Linked DNA regions of Homo sapiens: all the other regions are linked to region 3. The links come from fine-mapping of genetic effects on gene expression. A gene starts in region 3. Each other region holds a variant in brackets. All regions are shown on one strand. Distances are from middle to middle.

Evidence for each region. PIP is the estimated chance that this variant, and not a neighbour inherited with it, causes the effect.
Region 1: its variant is fine-mapped to the expression of GIGYF1 in atrial appendage (GTEx, PIP 0.93).
Region 2: its variant is fine-mapped to the expression of GIGYF1 in whole blood (TOPMed, PIP 0.99).

What each region holds. Positions count from the first base shown.
Region 1 is chr7:100,670,219-100,678,365 of GRCh38, forward strand. GNB2 (G protein subunit beta 2) reads left to right here and starts at 3,522. Exons shown (of 10, transcript NM_005273.4): 1 at 3,522-3,705; 2 at 5,959-6,104; 3 at 6,317-6,355; 4 at 6,475-6,581; 5 at 7,134-7,197; 6 at 7,280-7,442; 7 at 7,534-7,600; 8 at 7,880-8,081. The coding sequence starts at 6,048. RefSeq lists silencers at 3,052-3,181, 3,192-3,271, 3,522-3,701, 5,292-5,531, 5,542-6,121 and enhancers at 4,132-4,341, 4,542-4,621. The variant T/C (reference allele first, on the strand shown) is at 3,680.
Region 2 is chr7:100,883,348-100,891,485 of GRCh38, forward strand. It overlaps SRRT (serrate, RNA effector molecule), which reads left to right. Exons shown (of 20, transcript NM_015908.6): 6 at 723-892; 7 at 1,021-1,205; 8 at 1,393-1,491; 9 at 1,576-1,693; 10 at 1,866-2,023; 11 at 2,354-2,415; 12 at 2,516-2,594; 13 at 2,900-3,088; 14 at 3,448-3,621; 15 at 3,700-3,853; 16 at 3,973-4,166; 17 at 4,356-4,512; 18 at 4,695-4,796; 19 at 4,910-5,036; 1 more. The coding sequence ends at 5,202. It overlaps UFSP1 (UFM1 specific peptidase 1), which reads right to left and starts at 6,368. Exons shown (of 1, transcript NM_001430944.2): 1 at 5,374-6,368. The coding sequence starts at 6,152. The coding sequence ends at 5,496. It overlaps ACHE (acetylcholinesterase (Yt blood group)), which reads right to left. Exons shown (of 5, transcript NM_000665.5): 4 at 7,822-7,991; 5 at 6,647-6,988. The coding sequence ends at 6,867. RefSeq lists enhancers at 2,457-3,190, 6,861-7,594, 7,312-7,371, 7,595-8,138 and silencers at 6,392-6,441, 7,533-7,690, 7,762-7,811. The variant G/A (reference allele first, on the strand shown) is at 4,297.
Region 3 is chr7:100,689,443-100,697,610 of GRCh38, forward strand. GIGYF1 (GRB10 interacting GYF protein 1) reads right to left here and starts at 4,808. Exons shown (of 27, transcript NM_001375765.1): 1 at 4,668-4,808; 2 at 1-113. RefSeq lists silencers at 2,305-2,474, 4,237-4,356, 4,527-4,626, 5,067-5,226, a cis regulatory region at 3,882-5,375 and an enhancer at 5,914-6,717.

The sequences.
Region 1 (8,147 bases), 19 kb before region 3:
GCTTGTTGTTAAGTGACTTTAGGGAAGTCATCGTGGCCATCTACAGATTGAGGAAATCAACGTAATTATCTCTGAGGTCCCTCCCAAATTCTCATGTGTAGTTGACATCTGTTATCTATTGCTTATATGTCACTGAATTGGCAGGTATGCATAAATAGAATTTGCATCTAACTACGAATACGATTGTTTATATTTTCTTTAAAAAAATATTGGGCTTTTGTTTCTCATATTGAGAGCTCTGTTATGCCATTTTCGAATTTCTCCCAGATGTCCCCCCCGGCCCACCTTCAAACTCTGCTTCCTTAGACAGATTTGGCAATAGCTTTGTAAGTGATATGGACATAATTGCCTAAAATAATGAAAACCTACAGGATTCTTTTTTCATTTTCCCTTTGGCATGTTTACAATTCCCTGCCCCACCAGGCAGATCATTCTGTGTGTGTGAGTGTGTGTACCCATTACAAAGACAACTACTATGTTCATAACATATTCGATTTGGAAAAAACAATTGTAGGCTGGGCACGGTGGCTGACATCTGTAATCCCAGCACTTTGGGAGGCCGAGGCGGGCAGATCACGAGGTCAGGAGTTCAAGACCAACCTGGCCAACATGAAACCCCATCTCTGCTAAAAATGCAAAAATTAGCCAGGCCTGGTGGCATGCTCCTATAATCCCAGCTACTCGGGAGGCTGAGACAGGAGAATCGCTTGAACCCAAGAGGCAGAGGTTGCAGTAAGCCGAGATTGTGCCATTGCACTCCAGCTCTGGGTGACAGAGCAAGACTCCATTTCAGAAAAAAAAAAAAAAGAAAAAAGAAAAAACAATTGTTTTTGAAAAGTGATTTGTAATGTCTTTCACAGAGACTAAATGAAGAGTATGTTTTGATACTTTTTAAAATATAATTTCATCTTTTTAGATTCTGACTCATGTGCACATGAATGTACCCATGTACATGGGTATATCTTGTGATGCTGAAGTTTGGGGTACAATTGATCCCGTCACCTGGGGTACAGTACCCAATAGGTAGTTTTTCAACCCTTCCCCCCTCTAGTAATCCCCCGTGTCTATTGTTCCCATCTTTATGTTCATGAGTACCCAGTGTTTAGCTCCTACTTATAAGTGAGAACATGCAGTGTTTGGTTTTCTGTTCCTGCAGAAATTTATCCACTTAGGATAAAAGCCTCTAGCTGCATCCATGTTACTGCAAAGGACACGATTTCTTCTTCTTTTCTTTTCTTTTGTTTCTTCTTTCTTTCTTTCCCTTCCTTCCTTCTCTCTTTTCTTTCTCTTTCTCTCTCTCTCTCTTTTCTGCATCCATGTTGCTGCAAAGGACATGATTTCTTCTTTTTTCTCTCTTCCTTTCTCTTTCCTTTCTTTTTTTCTTTCCTTCCCTTCCTTCCCTCCTTTTCTTTCTTTTACTTTTTCTTCTTTTGTCTTTCTTTCTTCTTCTTGAGTCAAAGTCTTGCTCTGTTGCCCAGGCCGGAGTGCAGTGAGTGGTGTGATTTTGGCTCACTGCAACCTCCGCCTCCCGGGTTCAAGCAATTCTCCTGCCTCAGCCTCCTGAGTAGCTGGGATTACAGGTGTGTGCCACCACGCCCAGCTAATGTTTGTATTTTTAGCAGAGACGGGGTTTCACCATATTGGCCAGGCTTGTCTCAAACTCCTGACCTCAAGTGATCCACCCGCCTCGGCCTCTCACAGTGCTAGGATTACAGGCGTGAGCCCCATCTCGTTCTTTCTTATGGCTGCGTGTTTTGATACTTTCAAATTACAAGGACTCAGTGAAGGCTATTCGTTGCCTTGAACTTCCCAAAGCATTTCCACAATCGATGGGGTTCTCAGTAAGAATCCGGGACTTGGAGGGCAGATGCTGTCAACATCCCCATTTAACAGATGTGGAAACTGAGGCCTAGACCTACGTTCTTGTCCCTTTACAGGCAAGGTCCCTGGAGGAAGGGGTTCATCTAGAGGCTCATACAGATAAACTGGAATGTACAGTAAAGTTTTGGCTGCCTGGGTTCATATCTAAACTCTGCAGCCTCAGGTCTCTTTCCACTATTAGAAAATGGGGAGAAGGCTGGGCGCGGTGGCTCACGCCTGTAATCCCAGCACTTTGGGAGGCCGAGACGGGCACATCACCTGAGGTCAGGAGTTTGAGACCAGCCTGGCCGACATGGTGAAACCTCGTCTCTACTAAAAATACAAAAAAAAATTAGCTGGGCATGGTGGCGGGCGCCTGTAATCCCACCTACTCCAGAGGCTGAGGCAGGAGAATCGCCTGAACCCAGGAGGCGGAGGTTGCAGTGAGCCGAGATCATGCCACTGCACTTCAGCCTGGGCGACAGAGTGAGACCCTGTCTCCAAAAAAAAAAAAAAGAAAAGAAAAGAAAATGGGGAGAATGTTAGCACTTAATTTCCCAGTATTGTGAGACTTAACATATGTCAGCCTGGGCAGCATAGCAAGACCCCACCTCTACCAAAAATTTAAAAATTAGCTGGGCATGGTGGCTGGGGCACGCCTGTGGTCCCAGGTACTAGGGAGGCTGAGGCAGGAAGATCACTTGAGCCGAGGAGATTGAGGTGGCAGTGACCTACAATCGCGTCACTGTACTCCAATTAAAAAATAAGTGTCGGGCCAGGCGCGGTGGCTCACGCCTGTAATCCCAGCACTTTGGGAGGCCGAGACAGGCAGATCACGAGGTCAGGAGATGGAGACCATCCTGGCTAACACCGTGAAACCCCGTCTCTACTAAAAATACAAAAAATTAGCCGGGTGTGGTGGCACACGCCTGTAGTCCCAGCTACTCAGGAGGCTGAGGCAGGAGAATCGCTTGCACCCGGGCGGCGGAGGTTGCAGTGAGTTGAGATAGCACTCCAGCCTGGGCGACAGAGAGAGACTCCGTCTCAAAAAAAAAAAGTGTGGCTCTCAATAAATGAGTTGTTATTTCAGTGGCAAGCCCTGAAAGGGGGTCTACAAAGGCCCAGTGGGCGAGGCTGAGGAAATGCCTGGACACGACCCTTCTCATGGCATTCCCGGGGCGCCCGCATCAGCCCCTACCCACTCCCGCTCGGGGACTTTCTCGGAATCGCGCTTCTTCTTCCAGCAGCCTCGAGGCCGGCCCCGTCCAGGTCTCTTTAGCTCCGCCCCCTGGTGAGGGGCGTGGCCTCCTCAGGGCCGGGGCGTGGCCCAACCGGGAACTGGGGCGTCGAACTCCCCTTCCCAGTCTGGAGCCACCCATTCCAGGCGGGGCGGGAGGCTGATCACGTGACCAGCGAGCGGTCTCACCCTCCTCATATGCCAGTACCACCTCCTCCAGTCCCAGAGGGGGGATGTCTTACTCCTTTCCGTGAAGCAAACCCTTTGAGTACGGTTTGCGTCCACAAAGCGTAGGGTGAGAACCTTGGGAGCGACTGGGCCCGTCTTTGCTCCCTCGGTGGGGTTTTGTCTCCTGGCTTCCCCCAAGTGCGAGGCAGTTGGTCTCGCCCAGCCGGGTCCTGGGCGCGGCGGCGGCAGCCGCGTCACTGGCGGGCGGGATCCCTCCGCTCTGGGGAGGCAGCGCTGGCGGCGGGGCTGGGGCCACTGAGGAAATCCATCCGCGCCGCCGCCGCCGCCGCCGCCGCCGCCGCCGCCGCCTCCGCCGCGGAGGAAGACAGCGCCGCCCGCGCACCGCCAGCGACC[T/C]CCGCCGCAGAGTCCCACCGCCACAGGTACCTTCGCTGGCAAAAGGAGTCCTCTCGCCCCCCAGCCCCAATTTCCCCCAGGGGAACCTCTCTTCCTTCGGTCTCCCGGGGCTGGCCTCCTGGGAGCGGACGTAACTCCCCAGACCTCCGCTCCCTTCCCCTCTTGCCCGGTCGCTCCCAAACCCGGAAGGGGAACTGGGGAACCCTCGCCCCCCACCGTGCGTGCGCTTCCCCGCACCATCAGCGAAGTTTTTGCCCGACCCCAGACCCCAGCCCAGCCCCGACTGCCTCTTGCTCCCTCGGAAGTTGGGGGGCTAAATTCCGGGCTTCCTCTAGGCCCCGCCCCGCCCCCTTTCCCCACCGCCACCCTCCCGCCTGCCCCCGGGGAGCACCCCTCGTGTCCTCCACTGTCGCACCCCTGCCGGCCCTCGCCTTGCACAACTCCAAAATCGGGGAGAAGCAGGCAAGGCCGCGCGCCACCCTTCCTTTCGTCTCCACCCTACCCACGATTTGGGTGCTGCCCGTGGTTTCTGGCCCCACTCGCCGAAACTGGAGCCCTCGGCGCCCTATTCCCTTTACAGATCCTCACCCCAAGCCCAGCTCCCAGGCGCCCGCCCCCCGCCCAGCTTTCTTTTAGGCAAAATGGAGGTCGTAGGGGCTGGAGGGCCAGGCCCACTGCGCTTCGCAGCGCCGCACCAGCCCGCGCCTTCCAGCTGCCAGATCCAGGGACCCTCCCGTCACTCTCCTGAGCCCCGCCAGACCTGCGGAGGCGGTTGCACCCTCATTTCTCTATGGAGCGCCGGCTGCTATATCCCTAGAGTCTGGGGGCTGCTGAGGGCCCTGGGGGGTGATGGGGACCGAGGGCTGAGAACGTCGCCCCCGCCCCCAGTTTCTTCCTCCAGCCGTGCTTCCTTCTGCCCTGGGCCTCCGGCGGTGCCGCCAGGCCTGGGCTGCTAGTAGGTGGAAGAGGCTTTGTGCGGGCCTGGGGGTTGGGTAGAGTAAGGAGTTCTGCCCGCACCCCCCATCCCCCGATTTTGAGGGTCACCCCTTGGCACTGGCGTAGAAAGCTGAACTTACAAGGAGGGGAAATGTCAGTGGGGAAGAGGAACGCCCTGCGCCTGGGGGAAGTGGGAGCTGGGTGGGGGACGCCTGGGCCGGCCAAGTGCAGTGTGTACGGCCGGATCGCACAGGTGTCCCGCGGGCGGGGAAGGACTCAGGCTCCCGGAGCGGAGCCAGCCGGGCCCCTGGGGCCCGGGCGCCGAGCCTGCGGGCTGGGCCCCCCGGGTGTCCAGGGCGCCGCGGCCAGGCCGCCTGGGGCCGCCCGCCCGCGCCTGGGAGAGAGCACCTCCGCGCCTCGGGGCCGGGGACCTCGTTGCGGAGCCGTAATTACTCGAGAGCGGCTCCCACGGGCTTTCTGCGGGCGCGGCGGGGCGGGCGGTCCCTGCGCTGGAGGGAGCAGCGGCTCGGGGCTGCCTTCCCCGCCGCTGTCACCCCCACCCGCGGCGGACGGCTAATGGGGCGCAGCCGGACCGGGGATTATCCGGGGTGAGCCGTCCAGAACCTATTAGCGCCCAATCGGCTTTTCCCAAATCCTGTAAACAGCCACCCGGGCCGGTTCTGGGGAGGGCGGGAGGCTGGGTCGGGCGGGGGCGATGGGGCCGGGGGTGGGGTCACCCACCCTACAGGTCTCTGCCGTGGATGCGGTTGCCTTGGCAACGGGGCTAGGGTGGGGGCATTTCACCAATGAGGTGCTCTCGGTCCGGGTGACGGTTGCCTAGGCAACCCCACGAACAGCCCAGCTTTCCCCTCTGGTCTCTCCCCCCACCCGCCACCATCGAAGCTGGGGGTGTGTGTGGAGGGTGTGCGCCTTGTGGGGTGAATTTCAAGAGGCACCGCCCCTTTTAAAATTAGGTGCTTGGAGGGCGGTGCCTGTGCGGGCTGGGGCAGAAGCCAGGTCTGTTTTCGAAGGGACACCCCCGCCCCCCCCGCCCCAGTTCCTGCCGCGGGTGTCCTGCCCGGGCTGTGTCCGAGGGAGGGGTTTCCCCTGCGCTTCCTCTTGCACTTCCCGCTCCGTTTCCGGGGGGCGGGAGGAAGATTGGGGAAGTCGGCTCTTACTCGGCGACGTCTCTGGTGCCGGAGACCCTGGTTGTGCCCGGGGACGGCGGCCGCGCCGCCCCTTCCCCCTCCCCTTGCTTACCCCTTCCGGGCCGCGCTGCAACCCCGCCTTTCTCCCCACTTCCCCGGCGGCCTCGGGCCTGACGTCAGCCCTGCATCCCCCAGGCCTCGGGCCAGCGGCCAGGAGCTGCCTCCCCCAGCCCCCGTCCCGCGGCCCCCAGCCGCCCCCAACCCTGCCCCACGGGCCCGGCGCCATGAGTGAGCTGGAGCAACTGAGACAGGAGGCCGAGCAGCTCCGGAACCAGATCCGGGTGAGGGCCTGGTGCGGGGCGGGCGATTCATGTGTACACCGCCCGGTGCCCTGGACCGGGTTGGGTGAGGGTGTTGGTGGGGGAAGGGGGAGGGAGGGCCCCTTAATGGCTCAGAATCTGACCCTGTCCACTCCTGTCTTCTGTTCTCTTCTCTCCCTTTCCTCCCCAACCTGTCTTCTCTCGCGTCTCTCTGGCTCTGCCATCCCTTACAGGATGCCCGAAAAGCATGTGGGGACTCAACACTGACCCAGGTGAGGGCACTTGGTGGCCAGAGCGTAACTAGGGGTTGAAGGGGCAAGGATCAGAGGCCGCTGCCCTCTGCAGTCCTGCTGCCTGGGCCTCCCCGAGCGCATTCTGTCTCTACCTCCAGATCACAGCTGGGCTGGACCCAGTGGGGAGAATCCAGATGAGGACCCGGAGGACCCTCCGTGGGCACCTGGCAAAGATCTATGCCATGCACTGGGGGACCGACTCAAGGTGTGTGTGTGTGCGCGGGCTGGCGCTGTGGGCCGACTTTCTAGCAGGCCGTGGGAGCAGCCTCAGATCTGGCGGAGTAAGCAGGCCACCAAAATACCCAGCGTACGTCTGGAAAAACGGTGACTCCCAGACATGTCCGCCAGACCTGGACAGGCAGGACCATGCTGGTGAGAACTTGTGGGCTGCAGCTGGAGACTGTCTCTCAGGTGGCTCACGCCTGTAATCCCAGCACGTGGGGAGGCCAGGGCAGGATCACTTGAGCTCAGGAGTTTGAGACCAGCCTGGGCAACATAGTGAGACCCTGGCTCTACTAAAAATTGAAAAATGAGCTGGGTGTGGTGGTGCTCACCTTGTAGTCCCAGCTATGCGGGGGAGGCTGAGGTGGGAGGATCACTTGAGCCTAGGAGTTCCAGGCTGCAGTGAGCTGTGATGGTGCCACTGCACTCCAGCCTGCACAACAGAGAGAGACCCTACCTTCTCCCACCCAAAGGGAAGGGGGTGTGTCTTGTTTTCACGCCACCCTTCTGCTCTCCCTACACCGTTCCCCACCAGGCTGCTGGTCAGCGCCTCCCAGGATGGGAAGCTCATCATCTGGGACAGCTACACCACCAACAAGGTAGGGTGGCGCGGGCTGCGGGGTGGGGCAGGGCCACAGGGCCCTGGCTGGCTCTGACCCCGGCGCTTCCCCTGCTCCGCAGGTCCACGCCATCCCGCTGCGCTCCTCCTGGGTAATGACCTGTGCCTACGCGCCCTCAGGGAACTTTGTGGCCTGTGGGGGGTTGGACAACATCTGCTCCATCTACAGCCTCAAGACCCGCGAGGGCAACGTCAGGGTCAGCCGGGAGCTGCCTGGCCACACTGGTGAGGGGCCTGGCCCAGTTCGGGCCCTTTTTGGGGTTGGGGGGTGCACTGCCCTCCGTGTGGAGACCTGGCTGACCAGCTCCTTCCCCAGGGTACCTGTCGTGTTGCCGCTTCCTGGATGACAACCAAATCATCACCAGCTCTGGGGATACCACCTGGTGAGGCTCTGCCAGGGCTGGGCAGTCTGGGCAAACCCACACTTCCTGCCTCAGGGGCCACCGTCCCAGTGCTCAACATGCAGCATGCACCGTAGCCTCCCTCTCCTGGTGGGCGCTAAGGGGGTCAGGGAGGGATGCGTCCCCTCCCCACCTAAGGCTCTGAGAAGAGCCTCCCTGGACCCTTCCACAGGGTTGGGCTCACGTGGTGGGGCGGGGAGAACAGGGACTCTGTTCTTCGCCCTGTCTCTTATCTTTTCTTTCTTCCTGTCACCTCTCCAGTGCCCTGTGGGACATTGAGACAGGCCAGCAGACAGTGGGTTTTGCTGGACACAGTGGGGATGTGATGTCCCTGTCCCTGGCCCCCGATGGCCGCACGTTTGTGTCAGGCGCCTGTGATGCCTCTATCAAGCTGTGGGACGTGCGGGATTCCATGTGCCGACAGACCTTCATCGGCCATGAATCCGACATCAATGCAGTGGCTGTGAGTTTTGGGGCGAGCTAGGCCAGGCCCTCCCCACCAGGCTCCCGGCCCTGCTCCTCACCCTCA
Region 2 (8,138 bases), 190 kb after region 3:
CCTTTCCTCCCTTTCCCCTTTTCCTCATACTCCTCATTTCTTCTGTTTTCCCTCTGAGGTCCTATTTGAAATGTTTTATTTTTCTTCTCCCTAACCTTCCAGCCCTCTCCTCTCTCTCCCCCTGTGGGCAGGACCTGAGGCTCTAAAGGGCACTCCAGTGTCTCCCTTCGGTCTTTCCTGTCCCTTCACCGTCTTGCTTATCTTCCCACGGGTGGAGAAAGGTGCCCTGCCTCTGGGCTTTTGCTATCTGGCCCTCTGTCTTCCACCTCGGGGTGGAGGGAGTTGGCGGGAGCAGTTTTTGAATGACTGCAGTTTGGGGTTGGTGAGGAGAGGGAGGTTCTTCAGGGCCTGCTATTTCCTGAGCCTTCCTCTCTGAAGCTTTGGGAAATGACACCTTTTTACTACGTTAGTGTTTCCCAGAGATTTAAAGTGGTAAATCTGCCTCTCCTACCCTGGCGTCCCCCTGTAGTCATTGGTCTTCCCAAATCCAGAGCTCTTAGTTCCTGGTTCTCCCCCAAATCTTCACAGAACACAACTTCTGGTTCCTTTTGGGGTGTTGGGTGGTTCTAGCGCACCCCTATCCCTTAATCTCTCTATTTTGATGACCTTTTGTGGTTGTGAGAGGAAGGGGGATATGCCCTGTCTTTCCTGGGCCCCTTCCCACATCCTGGCCTTGGCTTCCAATAACTGTTTTGTCTTTCCCTCCCCCGCTTCGTTCCCAGGTTTCGGTCTAAGTACCACCCAGATGAGGTGGGGAAGCGTCGGCAGGAGGCCCGGGGGGCCCTGCAAAACCGACTGAGGGTCTTCCTGTCCCTCATGGAGACTGGCTGGTTTGATAACCTTCTCCTGGACATAGACAAAGCTGATGCCATTGTCAAGATGCTGGATGCAGGTGTGCGGATTTGGAGGGGTGGCAGGCATCTGGGCCCCATGGGGGTGGGGGTGTCTGGGGATCAGGTAGAAGCCGGTTGACAGGAGCCAGGGCCCTGGGGTCATGACCTCTGTTCCCTTTGTTGGTAGCCGTGATTAAGATGGAAGGAGGCACGGAGAATGATCTTCGCATCCTGGAGCAGGAGGAGGAGGAGGAGCAGGCAGGAAAGCCTGGGGAGCCCAGCAAGAAAGAAGAAGGACGGGCTGGAGCAGGCCTAGGGGACGGGGAGCGCAAAACCAACGACAAGGATGAGAAGAAGGAAGACGGCAAGCAGGTCCGAGCCCTGGGTCTCCTAGTGTTGTCCCTGGCAGCCTGGGGGAGGGGGGCGGGTAGGGGTCCATAGGAGCTAGAAGTAGGGGGCTGGGGAAAATGAACCTGTGGCCTCAGCTGTGGGGGTGGGGGCCCTCTGATAAAGGTGGGAGGGGAGGTTTGACATCCCCAGTGGTTGTCTCTTACCATAGGCTGAGAATGACAGTTCTAATGATGACAAAACAAAGAAGTCGGAGGGTGATGGGGACAAGGAAGAGAAGAAAGAAGACTCCGAGAAGGAAGCCAAAAAGGTGAGGTGTCTGTGGCCTGGGGTCAGAGTGTTGGGGCTGGGGTTCTGGCACGCTGACTTGTCCCCTCTGCTGTGGCTCACACAGAGTAGCAAGAAGCGGAACCGGAAGCACAGTGGTGACGACAGCTTTGACGAGGGCAGCGTGTCAGAGTCTGAGTCGGAGTCAGAGAGCGGCCAGGCTGAGGAGGAGAAGGAGGAGGCCGGTAGGGTTTCTTTTCTGCTTTAAAGTGCGTTCTCCTAATGCGGGTGGGGAGGTGAGAGGTTGGCGACATTGACGGGAGGGTGGGTGGCTTTTAGGGGAAAGCTTCTGTATCCTCCCCACCACAATCAGTAATAAAAATGCACCAACTCCTTCCTACCCCCCTTCCTGCCTAGAAGAAGCGCTCAAGGAGAAGGAGAAGCCCAAGGAAGAAGAATGGGAGAAGCCCAAGGACGCCGCGGGGCTGGAGTGCAAGCCGCGGCCGCTGCATAAGACCTGCTCCCTCTTCATGCGCAACATCGCGCCCAACATCTCCCGGGCCGAGATCATCTCCGTGAGTGGGGACCCGTGGAGTCAGGGCAGGGCTGATGGAGAAGTGGAGGGTAGAGGGAAGGCAGTGGGGCCCTGCCTGTGACAGATGCCCCCGTTTCACCTGCTAGGGAGGCCCCTTCCCCAGGTTCCATGGCCTCCGAGGACTAGTCCTGATAGCGCCATTGGCTTTCAGGTGCTGGTGTTCTGAAGCCCTTTAGTGGTTTTTCCCTGCCCAAGGATGGGAAGAGTGATAAGGCAGTTAGTCCCTAGGGTTCTGAGGGCAGTGGGGGATTGGAGGAAGAAGCGAATGAATCCTTGAGTCACTGTGGGGCTGCTTTTCTGCTTCTTGCAGCTTTGTAAAAGGTACCCAGGCTTTATGCGGGTGGCGCTCTCAGAGCCCCAGCCAGAGAGGAGGTGAGTAACTCGGTGCGTTGGAGGGAAAAGTGCAGGGGAACGTTAATGGCCAACACCAACTCCCTCGCTTGACTATGCTAACATTTTCTTTCTTGTGTAGGTTTTTCCGTCGTGGCTGGGTGACCTTCGACCGCAGTGTTAACATTAAAGAGATCTGTTGGAACCTGCAGAACATCCGTGTGAGTGCTGGGGGTGGGACTGTGGGGAAGAGGAAGGGAGACTCTGTGCCACACGGGACCTCTGTGTGACTTTGTTCATCTGATAGTTTGGTTGTTCTGCACACTCTTTGACCGTTTTGTCTGGCTACGTTGTCTCTGGGCAAGGCTCTAGGGCGTTAGCATGGACGGAACCTATGTGGTCCCCGTCCCCAGGGAGCTCGCAGTCTGATCAATCGCTGGTGCTCAAGAGGGAAGGGTCTTAGAGCTGCTGTTTCTCTGGCAAGCGGGGTAAGTGGGGTAAGCTGCTGATGATGTCTGCCCTCCAGCTCCGGGAGTGTGAGCTGAGCCCTGGTGTGAACAGGGACCTGACCCGGCGCGTTCGCAACATCAACGGCATCACCCAGCACAAGCAGATTGTGCGCAACGACATCAAGCTGGCGGCCAAGCTGATCCACACGCTGGATGACAGGACACAGCTTTGGGCCTCAGAACCAGGGACGCCTCCCCTGCCCACGGTCAGTGACTCCCCAAAGGACTTTGTCAGAAGCAACTGGTAGTGCCTCTGCTGTGGGCACCTCTGACCTTACCTATCTGTAGCCTTGAACCCTTGCACCCACTCGCCTGCTCACTCATTTGCCCCTTCGTGTGTGGGTAGCAGCACCTCCAGATTCCAGCAGAACTGGGGGGATGCTAGTGATCATTTGTGGCTGGGGTGGAACAAAAGCTAAAATAAAGACAAATCTCAAGGGGGCAAAAGGTGCCATTTATGTCCGGTGAACTCCTGTCCCCTCGCTGCTCTTTCACTTGTGGAAAGTCTCAGGTTACCTCCTCTGAAGGTCTTCTCTGCCTTACTTGCTTCTCTTCCTCCCATCAGAGCCTGCCCTCGCAAAACCCGATCTTGAAGAATATCACCGACTACCTGATCGAGGAAGTAAGCGCCGAGGAGGAGGAGCTGCTGGGGAGCAGCGGGGGCGCTCCTCCTGAGGAGCCTCCTAAGGAAGGGAACCCGGCAGAGATCAACGTGGAGCGGGATGAGAAGTTGATTAAGGTGCCAGTGGCAGCGCGGGGCACGTGGGGGCTCGGGCGGTGAGGGCAGGAGCTGAACGCTCGCATTCACTTCCCTTAGGTCTTGGACAAGCTCCTCCTTTACCTGCGCATCGTGCATTCCTTGGATTATTACAACACCTGTGAGTACCCCAACGAGGACGAGATGCCCAATCGCTGTGGGATCATCCACGTTCGGGGGCCCATGCCACCCAACCGCATCAGTCACGGGGAAGGTGAGCTCCAGGTTCCCCTTTGTTCCCGGCTGCCCCTGGCCTTGGTCCTCCAGCCCCTTGCCACCATCCTTCCTTCTGGCTCCCTTGCCAACCTTCCTTCCTCTGTTCCCAAACCACAGTGCTGGAGTGGCAGAAGACTTTTGAGGAGAAGCTCACGCCGTTGCTGAGTGTGCGGGAGTCACTCTCAGAGGAAGAGGCCCAGAAGATGGGGCGCAAAGACCCAGAGCAGGAAGTGGAGAAGTTCGTCACCTCCAACACGCAGGAACTGGGCAAGGATAAGTGGCTGTGTCCTCTCAGTGGCAAGAAATTCAAGGTGTGGGATGTTGGAGAATGGCCGTGCTACGGTGGTGGGAGGTGGGGTTGAGACAGGAAGCCCCCTGGGCAGGGGTGGGGGAACTGCTTACTGCACTGGCAGGCGGGAGCTGGGAATCCTTCCAGCTCGG[G/A]CCTGGGAGCGAGGCAACCCTTATGTGGCTGTCCTGACCCCTCTCCTCTCTCCACCCAGGGTCCTGAGTTTGTGCGCAAACATATCTTCAACAAGCATGCAGAGAAAATTGAGGAAGTGAAAAAGGAAGTCGCGTTTTTTAACAACTTCCTCACTGATGCTAAGCGCCCAGCTCTGCCTGAGATCAAGCCAGCCCAGCCACCTGGCCCCGCCCAGAGTAAGATACGATCCATGAAGGTCGCATGTGCCCTCTTCCTTGACTACCCAGGGACTCCTGTTTCTCTTTAACGTGTCACCCCGAGAAGTTTCTGCCCCATCCTCAGGCCATAGCCCTAGAAGTCAATTGTACCCGTATCCCCCTCCCCGCCCCCGCAGTAATTCATGTCCCTGTCCGTGTTGTACTCCCCCCAGGTTTGACCCCAGGACTCCCCTACCCACACCAGACTCCCCAGGGCCTGATGCCCTATGGTCAGCCCCGGCCCCCGATCTTGGGCTATGGAGGTAAGTACAGGAGGGAGATGAAGGGGCTTGGTGAGTGTGTGGCTTTGGGAGAAGAAAACAGAGGATGGAATTGAGGACATAGTTTTGCAACTCAACACTGATCTCTGTCATAGCTGGTGCTGTCCGCCCTGCAGTCCCCACAGGAGGCCCTCCATACCCCCATGCCCCGTATGGTGCTGGTCGAGGGAACTATGATGCCTTCCGAGGCCAGGGAGGTTATCCTGGGAAACCTCGCAACAGGTGAGGAGGGCAGACGCCCAAGCTTTGTTGCCGCCTGCAGACTCCCTTTTGGGAGCCCTCAGCTCTCATCCTGTACCTCTCACCTCACAGGATGGTTCGTGGAGACCCAAGGGCCATTGTGGAATATCGGGACCTGGATGCCCCAGACGATGTTGATTTCTTTTGAGCCGTCCCCCGTTCCTCAGTCCTGTATCATCCATACTTGTACTACCTTGTCCTATGAAGCTCTGAGAATTTTTTGTACGATCAGCCTTACTGCTAATAAAAGCACTTCCACAGGGCTCCTGACTCTCGTGTGTTACATAACTCCTCCATCCTTCCAGAGTAACTCCTGAGGTGTTGCTCAGCCCTGCCACTTTTATTATTGATGTCAAAAGCGCCAGGCTTTGCAGGGACACCAGTGGGAGGTACATAGGTGCGTGTCTGGGACCCGAGAATCTCAGTTCTGTAACTTCGTCCTCAGTCCAAGGTGCGCTGCTGCTGTTGGGAGCTAAGGCTGGTCAAGCACAGGTTGTAGAAGGAGTTGGGGTCAAAGGCTGCACTCACCTCTTGCCAGCCCACCCACCCAGCAGCCTGTAGTTCACTGGGGCTTTTTGGAGTGCCCCAGTAGTGAGGGTCCAATACCAGGACATAGGCTTCCGTGCCTGACCCTACGCAGACTCCCAGCAAGGCCTTGGACCTGGCATCTGCGTCCCCCCCAACCATGACTGGGCCCCCACCCCCTGCGAAGTGCGAGTAAAGCCTCTCCAGCTCCCCGTGCAGCCCCACTCCCCGGGGTACGTGGCAGAGGCGTCCCTGGGGCCCTCCGAAGTGAGCGAGGCAGAGGCTGGCCTCCACGCAGCCGATCCAGTCCCGGGAGCCCCGGAAGCCGGGGGGCTTGTCGCCCATGTCCTCCAGGGCCGCCTGTACGGCGGCCAGTCCAGGTACGCCCGCGGGCTGGCCCTCTGGCCACGAGCACAGCGTCTGCAGAGTGCGGTAGCCGCAGCCCCAGCCGCGGTCGTCCAGGCCGTCGCAGCCGTAGTGGTAGTAGAGGTAGTGGCCCGAGAGCAGCGCCAGGCGGACAGGGCCGCGGCTCGGCGGGGACAGGCCCACGTGGACGTCCCTCAGCGGCTCCAGGGCGGTGGGCGGGAGCGGAGGTCCCAGGCCAGGCACAGCGTCCTCCTAGCGGCGCGGAGCGACCTCAGGCTCCAACACTTCCTTTCGGCTCCGGGTCTTGGGCCAGCTGCCGCAGGACCGGCGCGCAGACTGGGGACGCGCTCCCCGGGCCTCGTTGATCACCGCAGGCCGCAATAGGCAGCCACCGACCGGCACCGACCGAGGAGCTCCCACAATGCTCCGCCGCGCCCCGCCCCGCCCCGCCCCTCCCCTCCCCTCCCCTCCCCTCCCCTCCCCTCTCCTCCCCTCCGCCGTGCCAGCTAGCCTGCCTGCGGGCCTCATTACGCAGGCGCGAGCTCCGCCCGGCAGGGCAGGGCTAGGGGTTGGCCTTTGCCTTGCGCCCGCCTCGGAGCTCGCCTGTTTCTTGCCCTCCAGCCCCGCTCCTGCATAGACTCGGCCCCCGTGATTCCGGCGTTCTGCCTCTACCCCTGGCTCCCTAGTCGCGCACACTCCCGTGGCTGTAACAGTTTATTGGCAGCCCAGAGGGGCGAAGGCACCGCGGGGGAGGGAGCTCAGCCTGAGACATGCAGAGGACCGGGAGCCCCGGGGGACGTCGGGGTGGGGTGGGGATGGGCAGAGTCTGGGGCTCGTCTGTGTTATAGCCCAGCCCTGAAATAAATAGTATATACAGCTAGGGGGCCGGGCGGAGCGGAGGACATGGGGGTCCCGCCGGGGTCACAGGTCTGAGCAGCGATCCTGCTTGCTGTAGTGGTCGAACTGGTTCTTCCAGTGCACCATGTAGGAGCTCCAGCGGTGGAACTCGGCCTTCCACTGGCGCTCCGCCTCGTCGAGCGTGTCTGCGGCCAGGGCGCCCAGCGAGGCGGGAGGGGAGGACGGCACGAGGAAGGTCGGGGATCGGACATTTGGGCGGGTTGAAGGGGGGGTATGAGTGCAGGGAGGACGCACGGAGAAATGCAGGCGACCACGTGGGACGGTGGCAAGAGGATCAGGAGAATGTGCGAAAGACGAGAGGGAGGATGAGGGCAGAGGCGGGGCCGGAGAAGGACAGCAGGAAGGAGAGAGGAGGAGAAAAGAATGACCGGAAGACGGGAACAGAGGGGACAGGAGGGGGAGGTTGGGGGAAAAAGAAGAGACAGAAATGGTTGACCGTTATAGCCCCAATGGGGGGTGCTACCCCGTCCGGGGCCTCCCACTTCCCCCCAATGTCAGGCTCAGGTTCCAAAAGATAATTTTATAAAAGAATACTGGCTTTTCCATTTCCATTCAAACAACAAAGGCGTGGGGGTCCCTGAGAAGGGTGGGAGGCACGGCCCCCTCCTCCTGCCCTGTCCAGTGTGAGTCTCTCGGTTTGAGGAGGAAGGGAGCACTAGGTCTGAGATCCCTGAGTGGGGCCCTTCCCCACGGTCCGACCACTCATTAGAGGAGGGGCCCCTGTGGCCGTAGGGGAAGAGGCCGTGTTCACAGCCGCCGGAGGTGGGAGAGGAAGAGGAGGAGAAGCTGGTGGAGGAGGAGGAGGGGCAGGGGGAGGCCGGGCCTCGGAGCAGCCTCCCCATGGGTGAAGCCTGGGCAGGTGCTGGGAGCCTCCGAGGCTAGGGGGAGAAGAGAGGGGTTACACCTGGCGGGCTCCCACTCCCCTCCTCCCAGCCGCTGCCCGCTGGCCCCTGCATACCGGTGGCGCTGAGCAATTTGGGGAGGAAGCGGTTCCAGAAGGCGCAGGCCTGGGCGCGCAGCCCCCGCCGCACCTCCAGCGGCCGCAGGTCCAGACTAACGTACTGCTGAGCCCCCGCCGTGTACGGGGGCCATTGTGGGGCCTTGGGGTCTCGGGGCTCATTGGGATCCCTGCGGAAGGAAGGGAAGGCTCAGTCCAGACGGGCAGTGGGAGGAGGTGGCCCCCAACTCCACGGGATCCCGGACTCTTCAGCTCAGCGGAGAGCCCCAGAGAACCCGTCCCCTCCCTCCCACCACTTTCTCCAATGTGCGCGGTCA
Region 3 (8,168 bases):
CAGAGGACTCAAGCGGGTGGGCGGGGTCCAGGTGCTGCGGTGTTGTCACTGGCTGGGAGGGAGGCTGGCCCGGCTTGGTGCTGCAGCTCCCATCAACTCCAGGACGCCACAGTCTGGGAAAGAAGAGGAAGCGGGTTCAACCAGGGTGCTGAGGAGGAAAGGCCATCAGCCCCAGCTGAGCCAGCAGCCCATGACAAGCCGAGGCCTGCTCAGAGTCCAGGCACTCCAGGGGGAAACACCGGGCTCAGAGGCAACCCAAGGCCAGGCTGGCCTCCCCTGGGACCTCTCCTTCCTCTGCCTCGGCTGGATGCTCCAGTGGTGGTGTGTTCCATGACATGAAAAGCCACCAGCCTGTCACTGACTGCAGGTGGCCACCTAGAGCAATCTGGGGACTGGATGAGCCTTGAGGACATCACGCTAAGAGAAACACACCAGCCAAAAAAGGAGAGCTACCCCTTACTTCTCTTTCATGAGGTCTCTAGAGCAGTCACTCATTGAGGGAGGAAGGTAGAAGGGCAGCCACCAGGGGCTGAGGGGACAGGGAGCTGTTGCTGAAGGGTCCAGAGCCTCAACTGAGGAGGGGATCCTGGGGCCGCTGGTGGTCATGGCCGCACACCAATGTGAGTGTACTTAGTAACACAGAATGGCACAATTAGAGACAGTTAAAGTCTCCAAATTTTGTTGTATATTTTACCACAATAATCATTTTTTTAAAAAAGCTTTAGGGAACAAAAGGTATCTGGAGATAACCACCGCATACCTAAGTTTTCCCCACTCCAAGAAAAACACCCCACATTCCTTCAAATCAGCCTCAGGAGAGGCCATTTTGGGCCTCCTCCAGTTCATTCCTTCTAGAAGGCCAGAAGCTCATCCTGGAGGCATGAGGGTGGGAGAGAGTAGAACAGAAAAGGGACCACCTGGCCAGCACAATGGCTTATGCCTATAATCCCAGCACTGTGGGAGGCTTGAAGAGAGGAGTCCGAGACCAGCCTGAGTAACAGAACAAGACCACGACTCTACAGAAACAATTCTAAACATTTTTTAAAAAAGAAAAAGTGGCCAGGCGTGGTGGTTCATGCCTGTAATCCCAGCACTTTGGGAGGCCAAGGCAGCCAGATCACCTGAGGTCAGGAGTTTGAGACCAGCCTGGCCAACGTGGCAAAACCCTGTCTCTACTAAAAATACAAAAATTAGCCAGTCCTGGTGGTAGGTGCCTCTAATCCCAGCTACTCGGGAGGCTGAGGCAGGAGAATCGCTTGAACCCAGGAGGCGGAGGTTGCAGTGAGCTGAGATTGCGCCCCTGCACTCCAGCCTGGGCAACAGAGCAAGACTCTGTCTCAAAAAAAAAAAAAAAAAAAAATTTAAAGCGATGGCCTCACACTGCCCCCTGCCAGGCGCAGCAAGGGCAGCTCTCCTAGGTGCCTCCGGCTCAAGTCACCCATCCTGGCTGTGTCTTGGCTGCAAGGGGCACACAAAGGGGGAATGGTTCATGCAGACTGAGGACAGCGACACCAAGACAGGGGAGAGAGCAGGCCCAGAGCAGGAAAAAGCCCATGCCACCCGCCTTCTTGGGAAGAAACCAGGAGAGTGAGGTTAACTCTCTAGGCACCCCCACAGCAGGGTCTGGTGCCGGAAGCTGATGGTGCCTGGCCCCTTCCTTGGACTAAAGGAACTAGTGGCACACCTGCAGGCCACCATGGGGCTCCCACCCTCCAACAGGTTCTGGACTGGGGGCACCTCTGCTCCTCAGGGGGCTCTTGGCCAAGTCTAGAGACATTCTGGGTTGTCACCACTGGGCAGGGGGTGCACAGGGCAGCCCCACAGCCAAGAGCTATGTGACTCCAGATACCAAGTGCGCCAGTGCTGAGACACCCTCCTCTGCGCCACGAGCATGGGCACAGCCCTTGGGGGTCTACTGGGCCAAGGGGAAGGCAAGGGAAGGCAGGTGTGTGCACGCTGGGTCATTCTCCTCTCTGAACAGCAGGGACATCATTCCCTAATTACACTGTCCCACGAGGGAAATCTGAAATCCTGCCAGGAGAAAATCTTTGAGAAAAGAATAGATTTTTTTTTTTTAAGAAAAACTGCCTAAGTTTGTCTATTGCAAGCTCTCAGGGCCAGGTATCTGATCCCTGTCCAATGAAGGTAAGAGCAGGAGGTGGCGGGGGCTGGGGTACTGCCACCTGCCCGTCTCAGCTTACCCGGCTGAGCTTTCTCAGCTCAGGGTCTCCTTCTCACAGGCCCCTTCCAGCCTGTCCCCCGCCCTGGCCCTGCCCTCAAGCCTCGGCCTACTTCGGCTCCTCGCCCCTTCCCCACCCCTTCTCTTTCTCGGGCCTGTCTACCCTCACTCCCCCAGCATCTGAATCAATGCTTTTGAAAGACTGCCCCCTGCCGGAGACAAGGGGCGAGGACACGCTGGGCCCGGGTGCTCCAGTAGGCGCCAGGGCGCGCGGGAAAGGGAGCCTGCTCTCTGGGGCTCAGAACTCAAGAGAGAAAGAAAAGACAGAGAACAGGCGGTCCCAGTGCACATTCAGCTAAGAACATTATCTCCTCACTCCATCACCCCTAAAATTAGCTCCAACACAGAGCACTGTGCCTTGGCACAGAACAGAGCCACTTAAACAGAAGCACAGTCCCCAATTCCTCAACACTGGAACAACCGCCCAGCCCCAGGCCTGCTGGAGGGGACCTGGCCCTTTCTCAGGATGGAGATTCTCCAAGCGTGGTAGGGTGAGGACGCTGAGGCTTAAAAAAGAGATGCAAACCCGCATTCTTCGCGGCTGGTCGGTTATCCCAGCTCTCTCCTCTCTGAGCCATCCCAGCAAATCACACCACCGCTTGGCAATTGTCTACAAGTTAACAGTTTTCAAAGGATTTTCACTCTTTACCTCCTGTGATCCCTTTTGCCCACTTGCCCAGCCTTGGGCTCCAGCCAGGGAAAAGAAGGAGGAAGCTGCTCCGACAGCGTGCCCCGACATCCTTGACACTATGCAAGACTGGAGGTGCGCACGGTAGCAGTAACCATCCCAAACTCGCAAGCATTATTCTGTGAGTTTGAAGCCATTTTACATTTGTTAGACTTTCAACATCCTTCATCTAGCCTCCTCCTCTCATCTTCTCTCCTCTAAAGTGGGCTATTTTTCTTTAATTCCCAAATTCCAATAGCAGATGTAAAAGTTAGGGCTAACGCATCAGATCACGAACACAAGACTGATGTGTCCAACAGCAGAAAAAGCTAGTCCAGAAGTTTAAGCACATGGTCCACTTGACTAACCACCACGTGGGACCCTCAGGGCCCCTGGTCCCCAGGCAATGGCAGGGACACCAAGGCCAGGTCTACCCTCAAATCCTTCCCAATGGCACGACAGACCGCTGGGGGACCAAGACCTACAATCTAAGAAAATCAGATTGGAGCTGGCTAGCCTGGTGGAGGGTGGCTAGCCTAGGTCTGCAAAGGGCACAGGAAAGATGGGAAGGAGAAAGAACCCCAAATCCCCCATGTCGGCAGCAAAGGAGAGACCCTTACTGGTACCACCGATGGTGTTTCCATGCCAAAGGCGAGGGGTTGGCGGGGTTCTAAATTGAAACTTCTATATAGACTCGAAGAGGCAGTGCACAAGAGGGTGGGAAAGCTGACGATCTTCCAGAACGACACTTTGAGAGGCAGGAGGGAAGTAAGGCTTGGGTGGCTGGAAAAAAAAAATCCAATCCAGCTAACAAGTCTTTATGTAGCATCTCCTAGTTCCTAGCACTAGGATGCAACAGACCTGGAGTCTGACCGGGAATGCGAGTAATGACTGTATAACAGAGAAGAGAGACGAGGGGCTTTTAAAAAGTTACTCGGAAATTTTTTTGTTTTTTTTTTTTTTTAAGGCAAAGTGTGAGAGCTGTGGCCAGGGAGCTGCTGCACGGAGGGGCATGAGCTGAGAAGGGCCTGGCCTGGGACGGGGAGGACAAGCAGTCTCTGCTAAGGAAGGTATTTCCCGCGGCCGAGCAACTGGGAAGAAGGAGACCCCAATGACCCAGCACTAAGATCGCCGGAGCGAAAGGAAACAGAGGTGAGGAGGACCCAGGCGAGGTGCCTGGGTGGAGGGCAAGGCTTCCATGTTGGCCAAAGTCGTGGAACGCTTGGACCTGGGGAACCGCAAGGCCCAGCTCGTTCCGAGGGGAACCCAAAGGCGCGCTGGGGAGAACTCCGGGAAGCGCGGGGCCCGGCCACCCTAGGACGCTAGGGTCGGGGGCCCCCAGGCGGCCCAGGGCAGGGCTTGGCAGGGGCCCGGGGGCGACCGTTAGGAGCGCGGGGGTGGAAGGCAGCGCGCCGGCCCGGGAGGACGGCGTGCCCTTCAGGGAGGGGCGCCAGGTGCGAGGGGGGCGAGCGGTCGCCCCCTAAGCCGGGCGCCGGCCTCCCGGGGCCTCCCCGAGGCTGGCCGGCTCTGGGGGAGGGTCCCGGCGGCGGGGATGGGCCGGAGCGGGCGGGAGAGCGGGAGGACGCACCGGGCTGCGGCGGCCTCGGGGAGGAGACGGGGGAGGGTCCTCGCTGGCGGCCCGCGCGCTGGCTCCGGCGCTTCTCTAGCTCGCGGGCTCGGCGCGGCCGCCGCGGCGTCGGGGGCGGGCCTGCCCCGGGGCTGGGCTGCGGGCCGGGGGCCGCGGGGCCACTGGGCGCTTACCGCGGGCGGCGCGAGGGTCCGGTCCCGGGGCGTGGGCGGCGCGCGGCGGGCGGGGGCCGGGGACGGCGACGGCGGCTAGCAGCGGGGGAGGGGGCGCTGGCGCTCCCGCGGCGGCCGCTCCTCTGTGTTTGTGTTTGTAGCAAGATGGCTGCCCGCCTCGCACCACGTGACGCGGACGCGGGGCCGCGGGGCCGCCCCTTCCACCGCCGCCGCCGCCGCCGCCGCCGCCGCCGCCGCCGCCGCCGCCGCCGCCGCCGCCGCCGCCGCCGCCGCCTCCCTCCGCGGCTCCGGCCCGCGCCACCTCTCCTCGTGCGCTGCTCGCGTGCCGCGCGCGCCACTGCCCGGACGCCCGTCGCCCCCGACAGCCCCCCCCCTCCCCGCCCCGACACGTGACCTGGGCGCCCGGCTGGTCACGTGACGGGGGCCCCCAGCTGCGGGCGGGATCGGCCCCAGAGCGGCCTCCTCTCCCCCACCTCCCCCGGCCCCGCGACGCGCGACCTCTGGGACCGAGGCCGCGGCCTCCCTGGCGGTCCGGTTTCCTCCAGGAAGCCCGCCTGGATGACAGGAGACAATAAAATCCAGAACCCTTCATCAGGCGTCCTGGGATGTGTGAAATAAGTGGCTCAGGCAAATAAGTTGACTCTCAGGAGCCTCTTTATTTTTTTAATTATTTATTTAATTATTGAGACAGAGTGTTGCTCTGTCCCCCAGGTTGCAGTCCAGTGGCGCGATCTCGGCTCACTGCAGCCTCCGCCTCCCGGATTCAAGTGATTCTCATGCCTTGGCCTCCCGAGTAGCTGAGATTACAAGCACACACCACCACGTTTGGCTTATTTTTGTTGGCCAGGCTGGTCTAGAACTCCTGACCACTCAAGTGATCCGCCTGTCTCGCCCTCCCAAAGTGCTGGGATTACAGGCGTGAGCCACCGCGCCCGGCCCCTATTTATTTATTTTTTTGAAGCAGGGTCTCACTCTGTTGCCCCAGCTGCAGTGTACTAGCCCGATCTCGGCTTACGGCAGCCTCCAACTCCCGTGTCTCAAGCGATCCTCCCATCTCAGCCTCCTGAATTGTTGGGACTATAGGTGTGCACCATCACACCCAGATAACTTTTTTATTCTCTGTAAAGACTGGGCGGGTGGCGTGTCTCATAACATTGCCCAGGCTGGTCTTGAACTCCTGGTCTCAAGGGATCCTCCTGCCACAGCCTCTTGAGTAGCTGGGACTACAGCTGTGTGCCACCACACCCAACTAATTTTTTTAATTTATTGTATTTGTTGTTTGTTTGTTTTCCAAGACAGAGTCTTGCTCTGTCGCCCAGGCTGGAGTGCAGTGGCGCGATCACGGTTAACTGCATCCTGCGCCTCCTGGGCTCAAGCAATCCTCCTGCCTCAAGCACCCTGAGTAGCTAGGACTACCAGGGCACACCACCACGCCCAGCTTTTTTTTTTTTTTTTTTTTTTTTTTTGTAGAGACAGGGTTTCCCCCATGTTGCCCAGGCTGGTCTTGAACTCCTGGACCCAAATGATCCTCCTTCCAAAGTGCCGGGAACTCCTGGACCCAAATGGATCCTCCTTCCAAGGTGCCGGGATGACAGGCATGAGCCGCCACGCCTGGCCTCTCAAAAGCCTCCGTTTCTCTTACAGAAGGATGTTAACACTGCTCTGCACCCAACCCCCGACCCCCAACTCCACACTCTTCCTTGAGTGCTGTAAGAATTAAAATAAGTGAATGTGAAAGGCTTTGACAAGAGAGAAACTGCTATGCAAATGTGAGGTGACTGAAACCCCCTTTGTTTAAAAAAAGGACTTTTCAAGAATGACTCGCTGAACTTTTTCAAGGCTCAAAAGTTCCGCGTATGCTTTCACCTTTTTCTTTGGAAGTTACTCCAGAATGTATACCTTACTTCCCAGAAGCCTAAAAGAGCTGTCGCCCAACACAATGTAATCCTCAAAACAAGGAAAAGGTAAGTTCATGACTTGGAATTTGAGTGCCTGGTGTCTTGCCATGATAGAGTGTTGACTTCAGGAACTATTATACCTGGAACAACTTTTGTTTCCCCCACCAAGTACCACTAGGCTTCTCTGCACTTGGAGTTTTCCTGTCTGTTTTCCTTTTTTAACTATTTTATTTATTTAAGAGACAGGGTCTTGCTCTGCTGCCCAGCCTGGAGTGCAGTGGCACAATCAGCTCACTGCAGCATCGACCTCCTAGGCTTAAGTGATCCTCCCTCCTCAGCCTCCCGAGTAGCTGGGATTGCAGGGAGTGGCACACCACCATACCCGGGTATTATTTATTATTTATTTTTTTTTTGAGAAAGAGTCTCACCCTGTTGCCCAGGCTGGAGTGCAGTGGCGTGATCTCAGCTCACTGCAACCTCCGACCCCAGGTTCAAGCAGTTCTCGTGCCTCAGCCTCCCAAGTAGCTGGGATTACAGGTGTGTGCTACCATGCCTGGCTAATTTTTGTATTTTTAGTAGAGACAGGGTTTCACCATGTTGGCCAGGCTGGTCTCGAACTCCTGAACTCAGGTGATCTACCTGCCTCAGCCTCCAAAAGTGCTGGGATTACAGGCACGAGCTACTGTGCCTGGCCCAGCTATTATTTTTTACTTTTAAATTTTTGTACAGACTGAAGTATCACTATGTTGCCTGGGCTGTTCTCGAACTCCTGGGCTCAAGCAGTCCTTCCATATTGGCCTCCCAAAGTGTTGGGATTACAGGCATGAGCCACTGTGCCTGTCCTGCTGTCTGTTTTTATATTTTATTTAATATTTTAATTTTTTTCGAGACGGAGTTTCGCTCTGTCGCCCAGGCTGGAGTACAGTGGCGTGATCTCAGCTCACTGCAACCTCCACCTCCTGGGTTCAAGTGATCCTCCCACCTTAGTCTCCTGAGTAGCTGAGACTACAGACAGGCGCCACCATGCCCAGCTAATTTTTGTATTTTTGGTAGAGATGGAGTTTCACCGTTTTGGCCAGGCTGGTCTCAAATTCCTGGCCTCAAGTGATCCTCCCGCCTTGGCCTCCCAAAGTGTTGGGATTACAGGCGTGAGCCACCGTGCCCTGCCAGCTAGCTTCCTTTCTCAAAGAGGGAGTTTATAGGCTTTAATTTCTGCTGACTTCAGCATCAGTGTTCACACTTTACAGTTGGTGGGGATTACTTGTCCAAAGTCACACATTGGTGTCCAGGAGATCCAGGGAGACCCCTCTGGTCTTCCACCGTGATTGTATTAGTCAGTTCTCATGCTGCTAATAAACCTTGTCCTTCCTTGAGCCCAGAAGCCTGGGCAACAAAATGAGTTCTTGACTCAAAAAGAGAGAAAAGTGAAAAAATATAATAAAAAACAAAAAAGAACTGTGAGTCTCCCATGAAGAATTTAAAAATTACAAAGAAATCACTTGGACCTAATTGGCCGGGCATGGTGGCTCACACCTGTAATCCCAGCACTTTGGGAGGCTGAGGCAGGTGGATCACCTGAGGTTGGGAGTTCAAGACCAGCCTG